4 linked regions of the Homo sapiens genome follow. The protein of the gene in region 4 purifies or fractionates together with the protein of the main gene of each other region. This does not show direct contact. Each region holds a gene or a part of one and is shown on either strand. Other genes may lie near its edges.

Region 1 (5,476 bases), on a different chromosome or scaffold from region 4:
TGTTGTCCACACTGTTCTCAAACTCCTGGGCTCAAGTGATCTCCCCCATTTCAGCTTCCCGAGTAGCTGGGATTACAAGCACGTGCCATCACACCCAGTTAATCCCATCTCTTTAAAAAAATAATCAGCTTTGTTCTAGACATTTAAAAAATTGAAAAATTCCTGGGTTTGAGCTCTCAAAATATTAGTCTACTGGGAAAACAAGGTAATAAACATCTTTATGATATTATAATGCTATGTTAGAAATAAGCCTGGTTGTTTAAGAAACGAAGAAGACACCTACCCTAGTTTGGGGGCTTTGGGTGGAAGAGAGTTTCAAGAACAGAGAAAAGGATGTGCTAAGGTACGAATCCTAGAAAACAGGAGACAGTTCAGGACCTAAAAGGCTTTGAGGCTGGTAAGTAGAACGTGAGGGAAGTAAAGAGGCTGGCAATGAAACTGCACAAAGGGAAGCAGATGCCAGATTGTGCAGTGTCTCATATGCCATGTTAAAGGGTATCAATTTTTATGGTAAATGAATCAAGTAACCCTTCAACGTCAGGCATTACAATGACATTTTTAAATACGTACAAGAAGAAACATGGAAATGAGCATTAATATTGCCTAATAAAGTGTATGAGCAACTTAAACCAATACACTAACAACTGAAAGAGATATGTTTTAAGCTTATTCTGCCACAGATTCACATATGTTCTCTACTTGTCCTCTTTTAGAAAAATGGCATTTTGGTGTGTCATCTGGTAATTTAAGCTGGGCACATAATTAGTCAACACATGAAAGGAAGGTAACTGTCTAATACGGGAATCAAACTAATGCAAAGGCTATGACACCCAGTTCACCAGTAATGACAGGGTGGCTATGTCATAACACCTTAGGACATGAGATTCCAGAGCTCCACCCTTGCAGATTCGAACTCTGTTTTGGTAATTCTGAGATGGACACATACGTGAGAAGCACTGTTTGACTGGGTTTACTGGTAAAATAATCTATTCCGATAATTCACCCACTAAAAGCAGTTCTAGGAGGCATAAGCAGAAGCCTAACTTATCAGTGATCACTGGCCTCAGCAGAATCCTATTTTAGCTTGTCTATTCCCACAAATACATACCATCCCCTCTGCTGGGCACTTTGGCTGGTAGACTATTTTCCATCCGAGTCTCCTCTTCAGCTTTTTCCGTTTGCTCAGTTTTTGGTTCATCTTTCCTCTCAAACTGTGATGCTTCCTGAGACTGATGGTCTGAAGGAGTACCTGGTCTAGCAGATGATGATGAGGTCTGGGGAGTTTCCTCACTAGCTTCTGGAACACGAAGTAATCTTAGTTGAACTTACGAAAGTTTTGGTTTGATGGAGGAAAAAAAAGGCAAAGGGCAAGAAGAGGCCTTACCAACTCCTACTCTATCTGTTTTCTCTCCTTCTTTCTTATTTGTCTTATCGGGTTCTTTGGCCTCTTCATTATGGCTACCCTCAGAGTCAGAGCACTCCTCCCCTTCGTCCACAGGCCGGAAGTCCATCTCCTGCTCTTCTGGAATAGGCTCTTTCTGTACTTTCTGTAGAAAGAGAATAAAACCAAAGATCAACAGCAGATTTGGCTTTGGTATAAGGTTAATGCTGGTCATGACATTTAAAACACGTTTCTTACTTTTAGAGAAAGGAATGCTCCAGATGAGTCAAATGTACCCATTTCTTCTTCAGCATCCTCTAAGCACCATTCGGGCAAGCTATCCCTGTCATCATCTATGCTCCCACTGCCAGAGCGAACCCTTCGGTAACCCCGTTCATCATCTCTATCTCGAAAATCAAACTCAAACCTCCGACGTCGTTCCATGTGTTCCCGCCAGCCTGCAGAACGAGGGCCATCTGAGATGAGAAGGAGGACACAAACCTTAGAAAAGTTTTATGACAGTATTTGAATAAGAAAATCAGGAATAGAAAATAAAGGAGAAAACTACAAGTGACCGCAAACTCAAATGGACTGACCTAGTAAAGAGAACATTAGGCAACTAAATGAAGTTCAGAGTTCAGAGTATATGTACCATTACGAGATGACAACAGTACTTAAGTACTGAGCCAGGCAACATACTCTAAAGCTTTAAAAGATAAATCTAAAATGCAGTACATTTAAAGGACACTGTATTCCAAGTACGCACTTTCAGTAAGTCCTAGGTACTTGATTAAAATACTGATTAGCCGCCAACTCCTCATCCAGACTTAATGCACTAGACATCCTTCCATACTGAAGTTTACACCTTCCTTTTGCCCAATCTTAAAGCATTTTCTTTCTTCCCATGAAAATATCATTGTTTGTGGATAAAATCAGCTCCCTGTGTTGACTTATATCAAACTCATCATGACTATTTATTAATGCCAGGTTCCCACTTGTAATTCTGATCCTCCCCCAAAAATTCACAAAATTACAGTGCTGAAAGTTGTCACAGAGATTTTATGAAGTTCACTATCCTAATTTTATAGTTTAAGAAGAAACTAAAACTTTGCCAGCAGAAGTAACTCGCACATGGCAAAGTAGAACTAAAATCCAATTCTGCACCCTCTGCTGCTTGTTCCACAATAACATACTTACTCCTCTCCCTTCTTTCTCATCTCTTAATTCTCCCTATCCATATAATACCCCTACGGACATTCCCAAATCTACATTTCCCAACAGAAGAAAAGATTGCCTAATAATAAGAGATCCTACTTAAGATATTTTTCTAAAAAAAAGAAAGGGAAACTCTTGCTAAAATCTGACAGACCTGAGTCTAAAAGAGTCTTAAAAAGAAAAGCAGGCTTTAACCTATTAGAATTTTCCATCCTTGACTGCTTTCTCTGTGGGGGATAAGAAAAAGAAATGTGGCCAGAGTTAAATGTTCTCACTATTGAGACAAACTTTGCAAAAACCAGCAATCTAAAAATCAAATTGGAAAACAAAGGGCAAAACGTTAAAATGCCAAATACAGGTAGCATCTGATAAGCCACTCACAAAAAAGAAATCTTAGTCCCACACTCCCATCCCTTCATATAAAAACAACAAAACACTATTTACTACTTCCTATGAGAACTAAGGAATTTTATACTCAGACTGCTTACGTGGAAACCTAGAGCCATTATGTGAAAAGAGTCTTCATGATCAAATGAATTCCAGAGCCCTCTGTACTGCTTTCATTTCTAACAGTCTAAATGTACATCATGACAGGAATCTATCCTTCTAGGTACCTGGCTCATGTTTCTCCTCTTACTGACTTTCCTAGGTTCAGCTCCCAGACTGGATGCCTCCCTGTCCTTAATGTTCCCACCCCCACGCACATCCAGCCGGAAGCCCTATTTTATATCCCATAATGTTATCTTATCAGTAGTTCATAAAATTTTACTCACGAAACTAAACATAGCAAGTAAGACATGCAAGGTACTTATTAAGGCTGACTGCTGATTTACAGACCCTACATCTAAACTAAAGTTGGATACTATTTTCATAAAATCAGTTAAAATAATTTAAAGTTTTACTCAAATCTTAATAAAAGATTAACCATAAACTAACAAACGTTAAGAGTTAACATATGAAAACTGCTATAATCAGGCTATACTTTGAATATACTGGGTTTAAAAAGTGAATCGTATTCTTTTTTAAAATGCATTTACACTGTTTTTTCAGACCCAAACTTTATATTTGGGGGATCTTTATATCCCCCAAACTGTCTTTTAAAAATATATGGATTTCAGCCACAGGTGTGACTGAAAAAATATATATGTATATGGATTAAAAGTTCTGGAAGATACACAAGTTGATGACAAAAATGATATGAAAGTCAAATATTAGGGGGAAAGAAAGATTCAGAAAAGATGAGAAGAAGATAATATATAACCAAATTCTAAGTTGTTGGGTGGGAGGTACTTTGTTAAACTCCCTTTAATAGAATCAACATCAGACATTTGGGCTCAAAAAACACAGTTCATCTTCCAAAACATTCACCTTGTTTGTTTTTGACCAGCTGGAATTTCTTTTCTCTCTCAGCCCAGATCCTATCCATTCTTCACTGAATGCTTGTTGGGAACATAGTCTACAAACCCTCTGCCTACGGACAAGCTCAGCATAAAATGCAGTGATGCCTTTTAGAGAACTATAACATCTGGCCCAGGTCACAGACTAATGAAAATTGTCTAGACCTTGTGATGTAAACAATGCCCACTAATGACAGAAAACCCACCCAAGAGGCAGCCATGAAGAGTTGGTATAAAACCATCCTAACTCTACCCAAACATTAACTTCAGTATGTTTCTATCTACCTACCACTTCCTTAAAATACTCTGAATGCCTGTTATAATGTCTACCCAGATCTAAGCTAGTGGTTTTGCTAATAACTTGATTTTTAAAAGTGAAAACAGTTTACTTATCATAATTTCCTGTATTAAAGGTAAGCCCCTCTGGCACATGGTTGATAAAATACTGTCATACACATGAAATTCATAGGGCATTCCACATATACTCTGTGTGCTTCAGTTTTGCATGACCCCACAATTGGAACTACAGTTGCATCTGATTATCATGAGGCATGGAATCAGCACTGTGGTACAGGATGAACTTTAACACAAAGCACTAGTGTCTTCAATTACTAGCATATCTAATGTCCAAGAAGAACAGTTTGAGCATTTTTAAGAGACAAACAGAAGAACTTTAAAAGCCACTAATCACTACTATTGTCTCTCCTTCTTCTAAAGTTAGAAGGACATAAGAATGAACTTGTGATTATGTTTCTGACCTAGGTTTAAAGCTTATTCTTCAAATAAGGTTAAATCACATTTTCAAAAGGGAAAAAATGAAAGAATAAACCCTTTCTTGTTAGGAAAAACACTCATTGTTGGGGAGGGAAGCACATATTTCAAGTGTGTAATTTTTACACATTTATAAATCTTAAAGAATGCTAAAAAAGATTCAGAGATTTAGAGGTAGACAAAACTGAATGAAACCCTCATTTCTGCAGTTGAGCGCAGGTGCTTCCCATTAAACTACACTATTTGCCCCAGAAAAATAGAAAAGTGATTTCAATCAACTGAATAGATGTAGGAAATTTTTATGTTGCAATTTTTTCTAGTAATAAAACTGTGACAGCATAAATAATATGAATCCACCCCCACATTTTTTAAGCCAGTTTATCTTTTTCATTTAATCCCTATTTCCATCAAACTTTCCCTTATTTCAGTCCCTGTGTGCCTTTACTCAACAGAATTCTTACCAGGACTGTGAGGTCGCCACCTCTCTCCATCCCTCCTTGATCCAGCTAGTCGCCAACCTCCATCTTCATCTTCTCCATTTTGTTCCTCTCTAAAGATGCGCCAATTTTCACTTTCTGAGCGTATAAATTCATGCTTTCTCCCTACTGATGTTGGTCCACCTTCCTCAAAATTTGGTCTCCCTATAAAGAAAATAATATGGTAAGTAAACATGAGCCTCTGCCAGTATAGGCTTTGAAAACAAACTTCACAG
Region 2 (3,550 bases), on a different chromosome or scaffold from region 4:
ACTCCCAGTGGGACTCTGGAAATATGAAGGAACTAGGGAGTGGAAGAGATTTCAGAGCTGGGGAGAGGAGTTCCTCCCTTCAAAGCCAGCAACTGCCTTTGGGGAATGTCGGGGGGTATCTCCTTTCTCCTGCTTGTGTGAGGTGGTACACAGTCCCCCCTTCACCTGGCGGGAAGCCTGTCCCGGACAGACTCATCTCAGCTTTCCCTTGGGGCAGGATCGGGGGCAGCAGCTCCAGCAGAAACAGCAGGATCTGGAGCAGGAAGGCCTCGAGGCCACACAGGGGCTGCTGGCCGGCGAGTGGGCCCCACCCCTCTGGGAGCTGGGCAGCCTCTTCCAGGCCTTCGTGAAGAGGGAGAGCCAGGCTTATGCGTAAGCTTCATAGCTTCTGCTGGCCTGGGGTGGACCCAGGACCCCTGGGGCCTGGGTGCCCTGAGTGGTGGTAAAGTGGAGCAATCCCTTCACGCTCCTTGGCCATGTTCTGAGCGGCCAGCTTGGCCTTTGCCTTAATAAATGTGCTTTATTTTCTCTTCAGTGAACTTTATCCCAGGACCAGTGGGGGTGGGAGAGCCAAGTGAGGCCCAAAGGCAGCTGTGGGCTGGCTGCGGGGCCTGTGGTTGTGTACTCATTCCTATGAGTGGGTGAGTGATGGGGACTGGGCAGGAGGACAGGGAGGGGACAGGAGCTGGCTGCTGTTGGGGATGACTAGGACCACAGCTCCTTGGTCCTTGGCTTGGACCGGGGAAGGGCACTCGCTAGGGGTGGCAGTGAGATGGCATGCCTCTTCCATGAGGTGGTGCCCGCTTCCTGCCCAAGTGGGAGCCAGGAAGCCAGCGGGGGCCTGAGGCATGCCTGCCCTGTGGGTAGCTCCCGAAAGATTCCAGACTCGCTCTTTAGAATCAGGTGGCTCACTGAGCTCTGTATTTTGTTTCCTGGAGCTTTCACTGGTTTCTTCCCCTGAGATACCCCAAGTGACATGAAAAGCATACTCAGGGCCTAGAGACACTTTACTGGGGATGGGCTTCTGTCACAGGTCAGAGGTCTGAGAAGAGGGGCAGGCCCCACTCCTCTCCACTAGTAGAGAAAGGTTGACAGAGAATCATTTCTTGCTTCTCTTGGCCGTAGTTTTGGTTGTGCTGGGGGCCTCAGCCACAGAGGCCTTGGGGGCTGTGGCTGCTCGTGCCCCCTTCCTTCCCCAGAAAGAGCTTTGGTGGCCCCTGGGAATCAGACTGCATGGTTTCTTGGTGGGAGAGGAGGCCTGGGGTGAGGAGACGGCCTCAGGGACTGTCTCCTCCCCTTGCGCAGGAGTGGCAGAAGGGCTGCTGTCCCCAGCCATGGGCACCCCAGGTAGCAGGGGCAGGTCGGTGAGGGTGGGCTGCATCTCCATCCTCAGCAGGTGCTCTGTCAGGGCCGTCTGTTGCCGGTGCTCCCTGTGCCTGCTCAGCTCCTGCTCCAGCTCCTTGAGGAAGCCTGGGAGGGGCCGGGGGTGGAGGGTACAGGGTGGGTGGAGCCCTGGGCTCAGCAGGAGGGTCCCTGGGCTCAGGGAAGTCTCTGGCTGGCCCCTTGTCCCTTGTGGGAAGGAGCCTGAGGCTGGGGCCCAGGACTGACACCTGGCTCTGGCCCAGATGTTGATCTGAACTTGGGGCTCCCCTCCCCGGACGCCACTGCCACCTTAGCTTCCCTCATGTCCCACAGGGCAGAGGTGGGCTCTGGGGAGGCTGAAAACCTTGGAAAGCAGGGTCACCTCGTTCTGAGCAGAATGGGCCACTCAGCTCTGGGAACTCCTCATCGCTTGAGGCTTCATCCTCCTCATCCGAAATCCAGCGCTCCACCACAGGCTGCCCGTCCAGGTCCAGGAGAAGTGGCAGGGCTTCTGTCACCAGCTCGCTGCAGAGCAGAAGGAGCAGAGGTTACCCAGGAGGGCACCCTGGCGTGGAGGATGCAAAGACACGCACCACAGCACTCACACCCGGAGGGGTGGTGGCTCATGAGCTAGGTAGGAGGTGGGGGAGAAGGTGTCATGGACAGGACCCCAGGTTTGCAGGCTGAGAGGGGTCTGGGCTGAGTTAGCAGGTAGAGCTCAGCCATGACCTTTCTTCCCACCCTCCACTCCTTACCGGTAGCCATCCTGGTTGGTGCAGCTGTTTCCAGACAGGTTGAGGATGAGAAGGCTCTGGGGGAACTCATCTGCACACAGCAAAGAGAGAGGAAATGGGGTTCTCACTTGATCTTAGCCAAAAGACCATGAAGCGATGGGAATGGGGTTCTCATACCCACTTTCTAGTCCAAAGCCAGTACCTCTAGGCACAACCCCTTGAACTCCCTGAGGATGAAATGTGGACCTGCAGGGGCATGGCTAATAGAAGCATGGGCAGATGGGTGCAGAGGGGAGGGCAGGCCCCACAGGGGATGTGTTTGGTGAGCCAGGGCGAGTGGGTTCCTACCCAGCTTCAATGTTTCTATCAGGTTCTCAGAAAGGTCCAGAAACTGGAGGCATGGGAGGTCGAGGAGGTTTTCCACCTGCCTGATTTGGTTTCCTGCCAGAGACAGGAAGCTGTAGGGGAAGGAAGGGGTACAGAGGCAGAGCTGAATCATGGAACAGCTGGAAGAAAAGAGGAGGGCACCTGACACCGGGGCCCCTGGGCTAGGCAGCTGATGACCAGTGGGGACACATGGCCTTCTGGGGTGAGGGAGTAGATCTAGGCTTGCTGGTCCTTGACTGACAAGGACCCAGGCTTGGAGAAATCTGAACCAGTTCTTTGGGATATGGCTAGGTTCCCCCAACCCCTCTTCCCCTGCCTGAGCCCTGGCACCACATACCGCAAGGAGGGGATGCAAGCCAGGTTCTCAATTTGCTGGATCTTATTCTGCAAGAAGAAACCGAAGTGGGGAAACCAAGCTGAGATCAGATGCGTCAGGGGCCCTTTACGGGGACAAAGCCCCAAGACCATGTCTACTCTGCAGCTGGAGATCTGGCACTTTGGGAATGATCACCCCACTCCTTGAACAGGTTGCCACTACCTTAAGAAAGATGATTTTCTTTCCCCATGTGGATGGTTAAGGGTGTAAACCTGGGGTATCTAAACCTGACTACGTATACTCTTCTGATTCCACAACCAAAGAGTGACCTGGGAATCAGAAAAGGAAACTAAGAAGCCACCAGGAAAACGGAAAGGGCCTTGGTGGTGGCTTGCATACACAGAGAGAACAATGAGCATACAGGAACTTGACGGTTAAAGTTTCTATGGGGAAAGTTGAAGCGAGCTGGGAATACTCAACCAGGGGAAGGCTGAAGATCAACCAACCACCACCACCACCACCAAACAGCCTTCAAGTAGGATCTGAATGATGTACAGGAATCTTCATAGTTTCCTCTTCTTCAAAACAGGAAATGGGCTGGAGCTATTTAACGTGAAAGATTTAGAGTAGATGCCAAAAAGAACTTCTAGATCAAGAGAAGTGCCTAAAGAACAGTGGAAGGAGCACAGGTCATGTTCAGGATCTATTTTGAGGGAATTAGTTTTTCAATTCAGGACCCTATGTCATTCGT
Region 3 (4,728 bases), on a different chromosome or scaffold from region 4:
TTTTTGTAGAGATAGGGGTCTTGCTATGTTGCCCAGGCTGGTCTCAGACTGCCTAAAGCAGTCCTCCCACCTAGGCCGCCCAAAGCACTGGAATTATAGGCATGAGCCACTGCACCTGGCCTGCTTGCCTTTCTTAAATGACCTCATGTCATTGTCCAGTGAGGAATTTGTTTCAGCTGACCCTGAGTGTTGGTCCCGAAGTTCCAGCCACAGCTCCTCTCCCCACCACTGACTGTTCTTCTTACCACTTAGGCAGCTGGGTCCCAGCTATTGCTGAGGCCGGTGGAGTTCCCTGTTCCCATGTGCCTCCCTGTTCCTCCCCCACATCTGTTCCTGATCTACAGCTAGAAAATGCTGCAAAGAAGAGAGAGCGAGCAACAAGCGACCCAAGGACCACAGAACAGAAACAAGAGAAGAAACGACTCAAAATTTCCAAGAAGCCAAAGGACCCAGAGCCACCAGAAAAAGAGTTTACGCCTTACGACTACAGCCAGTCAGACTTCAAGGCTTTTGCTGGTGAGGAAGTAATGGGGCCCCATACAGGGACATCTGTGCGCGTCAGAGGGGAGGAAGCCATAAAGAGACCACAATATAGGGGCCAAGTGAGTCCTGCACAAGGCATGGTGCTAGCCAGGAATTGTTGGAGTAGTCCAGAGAGGCCGTGGCAATGTGGACAGTCGCCTGCAGCCTCATTACCACCTCCTCCATGGGAGCTCAACTCATGGTGGCCTCCATGGTGGGTTAGCAAGATCACCTGTCACTTCCACTGTGACCAGGGCGCCATCCTTCCTCACTATAACTTGTGCCCATAAACCCTCTCTCTCTCTCTCACACACACACACACACAGAATTTTGTTTGTTGAAAAATCTCAAAGCCTATGACATGAACCCCTATGGCTGCTTGGGCTGTGAGAGTCCGTCTGCTTTGAAGGGGCTACAGATGGCATTCTCGACTCTAGCAGCCTTCGGAGCAACATGCTCCTTTGGAAAAGAGAAAGCAGAGGCCAGTCCACACAATGGCCCTTTATACAGGAGTGTCGCCTCAGAGCCCGAGTTCCTTATGGCATCACCCAGCACAGAGATCAGAATGGATTTCCTTATGTGCGGGGGCCACTGCTGTAGCCACCTGCCCCTAAGGTCCTGGGACTAGAGCTGAGAGAAATGGGCCTGGTTTTCAGACTGCCCACAGGGACCAGGATCGCTATGTATTCATTTATGTGAGCCATGAGCCCTAGCCCCTCATCGTGACAGGGGTGCTCTCACAGCCAAGGCTTCCCTGAGTGTCATGGTCCCGGCCTCGCTGTGAGCCTGTGATGTGTGGTAACTCATTGACCTGACCGCAGGTCTCTCTCATCTCTTACCTTTCAGGAAACAGCAAATCCAAAGTTTCTTCTCAGTTTGATCCAAATAAACAGACCCCGTCTGGCAAGGTAAGAACTGCTCCTGGAGGATTTTAGCACGCTGGTGGCGCCTGTTTCTGACCTCCTCCTCTGCTGAGAAGACAGGCCCATCCAGGAGTCCATTCCTTTGCATATCTTTTTCCTCACCTCATTTCTTCCCAAGGGCAGACAGTACTGATCAGCTACCCCAGCAACTCATAAAACGAGGCTGTAAAAGCTGGCATGTGGCTTTAAAGGGTATTATTCTGTGTTTGCTACCATGGGAACTATAGCTGCAGGCCAAAAGCACCCCCTTTGGGGCCAGCACAAGCCTGCATTCACCCCTCGTGGGTGTTGGTGCTGGTGCCAGGGAAACAGCGTGGCTGTAGCTTCCACAGGCGCGGGGGCAGGGCTGCTTTGGGGTGCTCCTGTTCCTCTTGCAGCGCATCCTGGCGGCCTTGCCTTCAGAGACACAGAAACATCCTCTCTCAGGGGATCTAAAGTCACTCCTGTGCTGCTAGAATCTTTGGCCACCTGAGCTCAGGTGTGTTTTTCTGTGTATCTTGTGGTCAAGGTGCCCACCCAGCTTAAACGGTTTCTTTTCTTTTCAGAAATGCATTGCAGCCAAAAAAATTAAACAGTCGGTGGGAAACAAAAGCATGTCCTTTCCAACTGGAAAGTCAGACAGGTATGTGGTGGACGGCGGTGTGGCCCAGGGAGCCCAGTGAGAAAGCACCTGCCCTGCGTGGTGTGGTCCGTGGGGAGTAGCTGGGGAGCGAGTGTCCAGGGGTCTTCAACCAGGATGACTCAGAGAACCTCCCACAGCCAGGTCCCTCACGCCACTCGGAAAACAAGGGCGGGAGGTGATTTGCTCTGTGCCATACATCACAGAGCCAGGCACTGCACCCCAGGACTCAGATTCCCCTTGTTCCTGGCTCTCTAGTTACCGTGTGTCCTGGGGTCACCTCAGGGAAAATAGGTGTAAATAGTTGTGAAATTTTCCTGGACCAGCCTATTAGGAATGAGGAAAAAGTAAGCACATGTGGGTTATCCTTGTTGTTGAAGAGTGGTTTGGCTTGGTTTGGTTTTGTTTTGTGAGAGTCTCATTCTGTCACCCAGGCTGGAGTGCAGTGGCACAATCTCAGCTCACTGCAACCTCCACCTCCTGGGTTCAAGCAAGTCTCTCACCTCAGCCTCCCGAGTAGCTGGGATTACAGGTGCCTGCCATCATGCCCGGCTAATGTTTTTTTTTTTTTTCTTCTTTGAGATGGAGTCTCGGTCTGTCGCCCAGGCTGGAGTGCAGTGGCACGATCTCTGCTCACTGCAAGCTGCGCCTCCCGGGTTCACGCCATTCTCCTGCCTCAGCCTCTCGAGTAGCTGGGACCACAGGCGCCCGCCATGATGCCCGGCTAATTTTTTGTATTTTTTAGTAGAGACGGGGTTTCACCATGTTAGCCAGGATGGTCTCGATCTCCTGACCTTGTGATCCGCCCGCCTCGGCCTCCCACAGTGCTGGGGTTACAGGCGTGAGCCACCGCGCCCGGCCTGTTTTTGTATTTTTAGTAGAGATGGGGTTTTGCCATGTTGGCCAGGCTGGTCTCAAACTCCTGGCCTCAATTGATCCTCCCGCCTTGGCCTCCCAGAGTACTGGGATTACAGGTGTGAGCCACTGCACCCAGCCAAATGTTTTTGTTAAAAACATAAAATCCTAATAATTAAGCCGACCCTGAGGTCAGGGGACTTGCCCGAGGGCAGGAAAAACAGGTCTGCCTTCTCAAGATGCTGCTCAGCTCAGCCAACTCTGGTGGGCCGCCGAGTTCTCTGGGGCCCCTGAGCAAACCATTCTTCCTCTGTTCTGCATGATTAAGATTTGCACCATTTTGTAAACCATCTGAGAACATCCAACCAGCCCGGAAGAAATAACTGTTGTTTTTGTACTCTCTGCAGAGGCTTCAGGTACAACTGGCCACAGAGATAGTCCTGGAAGACACGTGGCGCCTGTGGACCGGAAGCACCAAATGCTGGTGCTGCTTTTGTACATACATATTTTTAAACCATTAAAATTCTTCCTGAAGAAAGCTGATTCCTGACTTTTATTTTGTTGCCGCCACAGCTCTGGCAGGTTGCCATCCTGTTCAGGCAACCATCTTCAGCTGTCTGTGGGCAGGTGAGTGTGCTCCGGGGGTTATGGTGACTTCTAGAAAAATCCAGAGCCGGCCGGGTGCGGTGGCTCACGCCTGCAATCCCAGCACTTTGGGAGGCTGAGGCAGGCGGATCACGAGGTCAGGAGATCGAGACCATGCTGGCCAACACGGTGAAAGCCTTTCTCTACTAAAAATACAAAAAATTAGCCGGGCATGGTGGTGGACGCCTGTAATCCCAGCTACTCAGGAGGCTGAGGCAGGAGAATCGCTTGAACCTAGGAGGCGGAGGTTGCAGTGAGCCGAGATCACGCCACCTCATTTGAGCCTGGGCAGTAGAGCAAGACTCTGTCTCAAAAAAAAAGGCAAATGCAAAGAGAAAATTTTAATCATTTGTAGTCCTGTCACACAAAGATGCTTTTTTCCTTTTTTTGAGACAGGGTCTCACTCTGTTGCCCATTCTGGAGTGCAGTAGTGTGATCCTAGCTCACTGCAGCCTTGACCTCCCAGGCACATGCCACCACACCTGGGTAATTTTTCTTATGTTTTATAGAGATGGGGTCTTGCTGTGTTGCCCAGGCTGGTCTTGAACTCCTGGCCTCAAGCAATCCTCCTGTCTTGTCCTGCCAGTGTTGGGATTTCAGGCATGAGCCACCACACCCAGCTGAGATTAACATTTTGCTGTATTTCCTTATAAGCTTTCGCTATGTGTATATAGATATATTTTTAAAATATATCTTGGGTTCAGGTTTCTATCATTTGTCACCTTGAAAGTTTGTGTTATGACACTTTTCTCAATCTAAAATTTATTTTCGCCAACCCCCATTGTTAAACGCTTAGGTTTTCATTTTTGGTACTATTCTTAATAATGCAGCACTCACTAAACTTTTATATAAATTTGTGACCCAGTCTCTGATAATTTCTTTAGAACTTCATTTTATTTTAATCCTGAGATGGGCTAATAAATCAGGAAAGCACAAAATGCCATTACTTTGGTTTTTACAAATACTTAACCTAGAAACCTTTTTTCTTTGAAATTCATCCCACAAAGTATTGAGATTGCCAACTGTATATGATAACCTTTGGGGGGTACCAAGCCAAATCACACATCACTGCCGTCAGAGAGCTCCCACTCTTGAACAGCAGAGAACAGCCCTGTCCTAAGATAGGCTGGAGTTTGTTTTAGCTAGGACTAGACTGGTTGAAAA
Region 4 (5,476 bases):
GTTTGTTGTTGAAACTTTAAAGAAAAACATGACTCTTACTTACTCACAGGGGACTTATAATCTATAAGGTAAGCAAGATAAAGAAAGGGCCATCATAGGTATAATTCTAAAAGTGAGAATGGGAAAAGCAAGTTATGGTTAAAAAAATGAATGAGATGAAATTGGATCTGCCATTAGGATAAAAAAGAATTCATGTGACAGAGCTAGGAAACTCTTAGGTGAAAAAGATCCCACAAAACCCCTAAATCATATTTACTGTTAGTGGCAGAGAATCTCATAAATGTCTAAAGAACAAAACACAGTTTGTATTATGCTCAAACTAAGGCATTTTATTAGCTGGCTTTACAACTTAAATAATATCTTGGCTTTCAAAGGAACAGCTTCCACTAATTCCAAATTAAACTTTCACAAGTTTACTTGTTTGGGGAGGGACATTCTTATGGTCACCACAAAATACTTTTATTATAACCTTCCCCAAATCTTTTCTTAGCATTAACTGGAAAAAAAAAAAAAAAAAAAGCTTAGGTCAAATATCAACTGCCTGAAAAACCCAATTAAGTTACTTTTCCTTAAAACATGTGCAGTATAATTGAATCAAAAGAGAAAACTGCAAATACATTGTGCTTTGGCCAGAAGTAGAGTTCATTTCATGATGATTCAGTATCTTCAGATACTATTTTTGACACTTGCCATAAATCTTAGCAAAGTAAATCCATTTATTAACGTTTCAAAGGCAAAGTTGTTTTTAACATTAGACTTTCTTTGCCAGTTGGCAACTTAGAATTTTTGCAGAGGTGATTATTAATACTTCTTTGCAGCTAATTTTAGCTTTAATTTTTCTCTCTCATCTAAAAACATATCAATTGCACATTGTTCCTTTGACTTAATAACTGCATTCTTGAAACAGAGGTTAGCTATTTCACTGTATCCAGAAACGTGGTAGAAATTCTGACCCATCATTCTTTTATCTGTTAAAACAAAAAAAAAAAAGACATTTGCTGTAATTTAATCAATCACATTATAAGAACAACAAAGGGAAAATTATGGTGAAAGAATTATTATATCAAGAGAAAATCTTTTTCTTTGTCCTGCAACTTTCTTCCTTTCCTAGTCATGCCATTTCTGCAATTTACTATAATCTCTCCATTATTCTCCACAAATGACTCTATCTTATTTTTAGAATGCTCTTTTAGAAAGAATGCCTTGATAGATTAAATGTGATATTGATGGCAACGATATCAGCTACCAATATTGGATGCTTTTTATGTGCTGAGTGCTTTGCACGTTATCATTTCATTTCAACACAACTCTAGGAGGTAGATTCTATTATCCTATTTTTACACTGAAGGAGGTAAATTGAAGGAGAAATGCATTTATGCCGCTAAAAACTGGTGGAGCAAGAACACAAATGGGCAGTGTAACTCTGAAAGCTGTTTTCTTCACCTCCACCCCACACCGCCTTCCATATGTATTTTACTTAAATTATGTATATAGAGTTTCTTGGTGCTTTAGCAACTTAAAAGAAAGATTTTTCATGATATGTGTAACTCACTTTTGATGCAACTTAAAGTTTATGTTATATCCAATTAAATAAACTAGTTTTAGGCAGAAAACAATCATGTGGAGTAATGAAGTACCCTTTAAAATACAATATTCATAAGATTCATATTAATTATGATAGTGTAGAAGAAATTAAATCATTGAAATTTTCTGGTTCATTTCTGGCTGTTTTCTCCAGCAATTAGAATTTAATATAAATTCTAATTTCTTGTTCTAGTAGCATAACTGTGTTTCCTTTAAGGCATAAAATCTCACTGAAGATTTTACCAATCTTCCAAATATAACCCTATCCCTTAAAGGACCACTACAACCTAAAATGAGTAAGGCTTCTCCTAATCAATGCTTTTTCTTTCATTCCCTCAATGCTTTCTTTTCATTCCTAAAAGGTAAAAAAGAAAAGGCATCATAACTATGGATATATAATGAGTCACTTTAAAATAAAATACCTCAGTGACAACACCAGCAGCTATTGTAGAACCACCGTAACGTAGCATGAACCTCCCCAGCTCTTTAAAGTCTTTATATAGCTCAAGAGCTATTGGTCTTTGTGTCTGTAGCTCTACCAATGCATTCTGGCCTTTAGTCAAAAACCTATTAAGAAAAAAAAAGAACAAATGAATATATGATAGAGGTGAATAAATGTAATAATAACAACTTGAAAAACAAATATTTCACATTTAACCAACATATCAACTGAGTCTTTCAAAAACAAGAAAAATATTTTTTGAATGAAAATATATGTCTTTGGACTTTCTGCTTTAGTTGAAAGAAATGAGGAGTAATTCTAGATTTAAGAAACATTAGGTAGTTCATTTTTACCAATCTTCCAAATATAACTCTATCCCTTACGGGACCACTATAGCCTAAAATGCTTAAGGCCCCTCATCATGAAATAAATGCTTTTTCTTTCATTCCCTCAAGAAAGTGAGTTCAATTATCTAATAAAGAAAGTTATACTAAGGCTTATTTCTATAAAAAAGTATTTGCAAAGAGGAATATAATGCCCTATGTCTTTCCTAGTAAAACTGTAATTTATGGAATGTGTATTAGGAAGTTATCTGTGAAGAGGACAATCAATCTGTTGTTGCTAAGATTCCCCTCAATCAATCAAGCAATCTCTCTCTTTCCCCACACAGGAATAATAGTTCCTTAGCAGGAGTTCAGGACAAAAATCACATAAGTAGCTTTTCCACAATATGATACTTGTAAAATATGAAGGAAGACAGGGCATGGACCAGACTGTAAATGATTTCATAAAAATAAGTGAACAAAAATCTCTAGGCTAGGCCCTGCTCAGACTTAGTGAGAGAGGCAGAACCTAAAAAGGGACATTTTGGAATTGTTTTCTAATTTAATTTTTATGTACTCTAGAAGTATAGTGGACAGAAATCATAAACTCTCCTTTTGAAAGATAAGTTCAGGGGCAGACGACTAAAAGAAGGTTCTAAAAAAATACACCAAAAATTCCAAATATTGGTTTTGGACAATTTCAGGCTTAAGTTCATTCCTTAGGAAGGAGAGCATCTAATACATAAATGGCTTGTTCCTAATTTAGTTTCTAGAACATTAAATTCCATTCTGCATAAAGCAATCAAGAGCCTACAACGTGCCTGAACAGGAATGAAAGGGAAAGGCCAAACGGTTGTGCAAAATAAAAGGATAAAGCTACAAATAAGATGACAGGGAACACAAACACGAGAATATGTTAAACTCTACCATCATTGAGCTAGGATTTTGTAGCAGGAGCATGGAGGGGAAGACTCAGGATTATATATGATGAGCCAATTTCAGACTGAAAATTCTGTATCAGTTGTCTAGGTCAAACAACCTGGCTCCTGAACAAAAGAATATAATTTATGTAAACCAACTGACTAGGTTAGAATCCTGCCTCTACCACTTGAGCTTTGTGTCACTTGCTAGATGCTTCACAGGATTGCTAAGAATATACATTATGTGAAAGCATTCACAATACAGCCTAAAAATAGTGGTCCTCAAGAAATGTTAGTCATATAGTTATATCGTGTTTCTCAGAACATTATAGCAAACACTCATGCCACAAGCTAAAGACTCAGGTTAAATATAAAGATCTACCTTTAGGAGAGAGGTAAAGTAGCCCTTCCTCCTAACAGAGAAACAGGCAAGGGTTTAGAGCAATGTGAGATTTTCTCTTCTACTTGCAGTCAGCCTATTAACCCACTAACCACATTTGGCCTCTTCTGCAGGTGTAAAAGATGAGGAACACCAAGGACAGAAAAAAGGGGATTTGGGATGTTATTGGAAAAGAAGTTGGAAGGAAAACCCCAAAGCTAAAGCAGCCAAGCCAAACTGCAATTAGCCTTAACTTGGATTTGGGTAAGAAATCTTTTTTTTTTTTTCTTTTTTTTGAGATGGAGTTTCACTCTGTCACCCAGGCTGGAGTACAGTGGTGCGATCACCGCTCACTGCAACCTCCGCCCACCGGGTTCAAGAGATTCTCCTGCCTCAGCCTCCTGAGTAGCTGGGATTACAGGTGTGAGCCACCACACCCGGCTAATTTTTGTATTTTTAGTAGAGACGGGGTTTCGCCATGTTGGCCAAGCTGGTCTCAAACTCCAGACCTCAGGTGATCTGCCCGCCTTGGCCTCTCAAAGTGCTAGGATTACAGGCATGAGCCACTGTGCCTGGCCAAGAAATCTATTTTGTAACATTCATCTCTAGTCCTGTATTTTGTTTTTATTTACGTACTTAGTTTCTGAGGAAGTACTTAAAAAATCCCAATCTCGTCCTAGCCAAAGGGGAAGTGTCACACCTAAGCCTGGACATTAATGCTAATCAGCAGGCCCAACAGGATGCTGATCACCTCAACTTAAGGCTCCAGGTGGACTTTGAGCAAAAAAAAAAAAAAACAAACTTTCCAGATGGGAAAAGAGCAGGCACTACAGAGTGTATAGATTATTTTCTTCTTAGCTTAGCATAGGGAATGATCTTATTAAGGAGGTGACAAGAAAGTTAAACACGCAGTAGAAATTTGGAACCGGTGTCTAGACATATTTTTTTAAATGCCCTTATTTTCACATAATCAGTATCTATGGCTTGAAATGTACATACATATATAAGTTTATATTTACATTTATTTATAATTCACATCCTCCACCACCACACATAACAGAAATTATATCTAGTACCCATATCTAAACAAGAGCTTAAATACTTGCTTGTTTTTATGTTTGTTTTAATCTAGCCCTTGAAAAAATAATTTCTGGAACAAGTAAAAATGGGTTTCACTTACCACAAAGAGAAATACTACACAAATGAGTTAATCTTTAAAAAATTGGCTTAAATTGCTTGTTTATCATTTCTGTATTAAAACACTCACTTAGGCTTTTTCTTTGTGACTTCACCCGTGCTTTTGTTTAAGACACTAATCAATCGTTTAATAACGGCGGGTTCACTGACAGTTTGGTAGTGTAACAGCACCTAAAACAAAAAATTATAACACTAAAAATCTGCTACCACAGTATCTCTGGCCTTTTCTTTTGGCACTTATACTTAATTATCTTCAATTCAGTGCTACTGCTTGGAGTCTTTCAGGATCTCCAGTTGCTTCCTCTAAGTCCCACCACTCTAATCAGGTGGTTACTTAACTCACTAAGAGGAAAAAAGTCATGAGAGGCATTTCAAATTTCTACCCCACCAATTACTGCATCAACTTTAGTTCAGTGCATAACCTGTCAGCTTTTTCCTCTGTAAAGATGGAGGGTAACAACATCTTAGTGTTGTTCTAAAGATTAAGTAAGAGAATTCGTCATTTAGAACAAATGTTGTTGTCATTTTTATTATTACAAGTAGTAGTAGGGAAAGAACCTGGGATTGAATCTCAACTCTTTCTCTTCTGTCTGTACCTCAGTTTCCTCAAGTGTAAAATAAGTAGGCTTTT

What was found.
Region 1: the proteins of HBS1L (region 4) and GIGYF2 purify together in Homo sapiens (affinity purification with mass spectrometry, with the first as the bait; one large-scale study listed by BioGRID). This does not show direct contact.
Region 2: the proteins of HBS1L (region 4) and LRRC46 purify together in Homo sapiens (co-immunoprecipitation; one large-scale study listed by IntAct). This does not show direct contact.
Region 3: the proteins of HBS1L (region 4) and EXOSC10 purify together in Homo sapiens (affinity purification with mass spectrometry, with the first as the bait; one large-scale study listed by BioGRID). This does not show direct contact.

Annotation. Positions count from the first base shown.
Region 1 is NC_000002.12:232,787,079-232,792,554, reverse strand, and holds part of GIGYF2 (GRB10-interacting GYF protein 2), read right to left. Parts: intron 5,406-5,476; coding exon 5,226-5,405; intron 1,858-5,225; coding exon 1,640-1,857; intron 1,548-1,639; coding exon 1,385-1,547; intron 1,298-1,384; coding exon 1,109-1,297; intron 1-1,108. UniProt on the Homo sapiens protein: Key component of the 4EHP-GYF2 complex, a multiprotein complex that acts as a repressor of translation initiation. In the 4EHP-GYF2 complex, acts as a factor that bridges EIF4E2 to ZFP36/TTP, linking translation repression with mRNA decay.
Region 2 is NC_000017.11:47,834,670-47,838,219, reverse strand, and holds the end of LRRC46 (leucine-rich repeat-containing protein 46), read right to left. Parts: intron 2,868-3,550; coding exon 2,821-2,867; intron 2,555-2,820; coding exon 2,445-2,554; intron 2,188-2,444; coding exon 2,118-2,187; intron 1,888-2,117; coding exon 1,745-1,887; intron 1,471-1,744; coding exon 1,100-1,470; 3' UTR 501-1,099; downstream 1-500. Other genes in the region: SCRN2 (secernin-2), read left to right, coding at 218-376. UniProt on the Homo sapiens protein: Required for normal spermatogenesis and male fertility. Plays an important role in sperm flagellum biogenesis.
Region 3 is NC_000001.11:11,065,347-11,070,074, reverse strand, and holds the end of EXOSC10 (exosome complex component 10), read left to right. Parts: intron 1-344; coding exon 345-516; intron 517-1,368; coding exon 1,369-1,430; intron 1,431-1,990; coding exon 1,991-2,067; intron 2,068-3,326; coding exon 3,327-3,357; 3' UTR 3,358-3,457; downstream 3,458-4,728. UniProt on the Homo sapiens protein: Catalytic component of the RNA exosome complex which has 3'->5' exoribonuclease activity and participates in a multitude of cellular RNA processing and degradation events.
Region 4 is NC_000006.12:134,964,323-134,969,798, forward strand, and holds part of HBS1L (HBS1-like protein), read right to left. Parts: intron 5,017-5,476; coding exon 4,916-5,016; intron 2,152-4,915; coding exon 2,007-2,151; exon of another isoform or gene 2,004-2,006; intron 969-2,003; coding exon 957-968; 3' UTR 1-956. UniProt on the Homo sapiens protein: GTPase component of the Pelota-HBS1L complex, a complex that recognizes stalled ribosomes and triggers the No-Go Decay (NGD) pathway.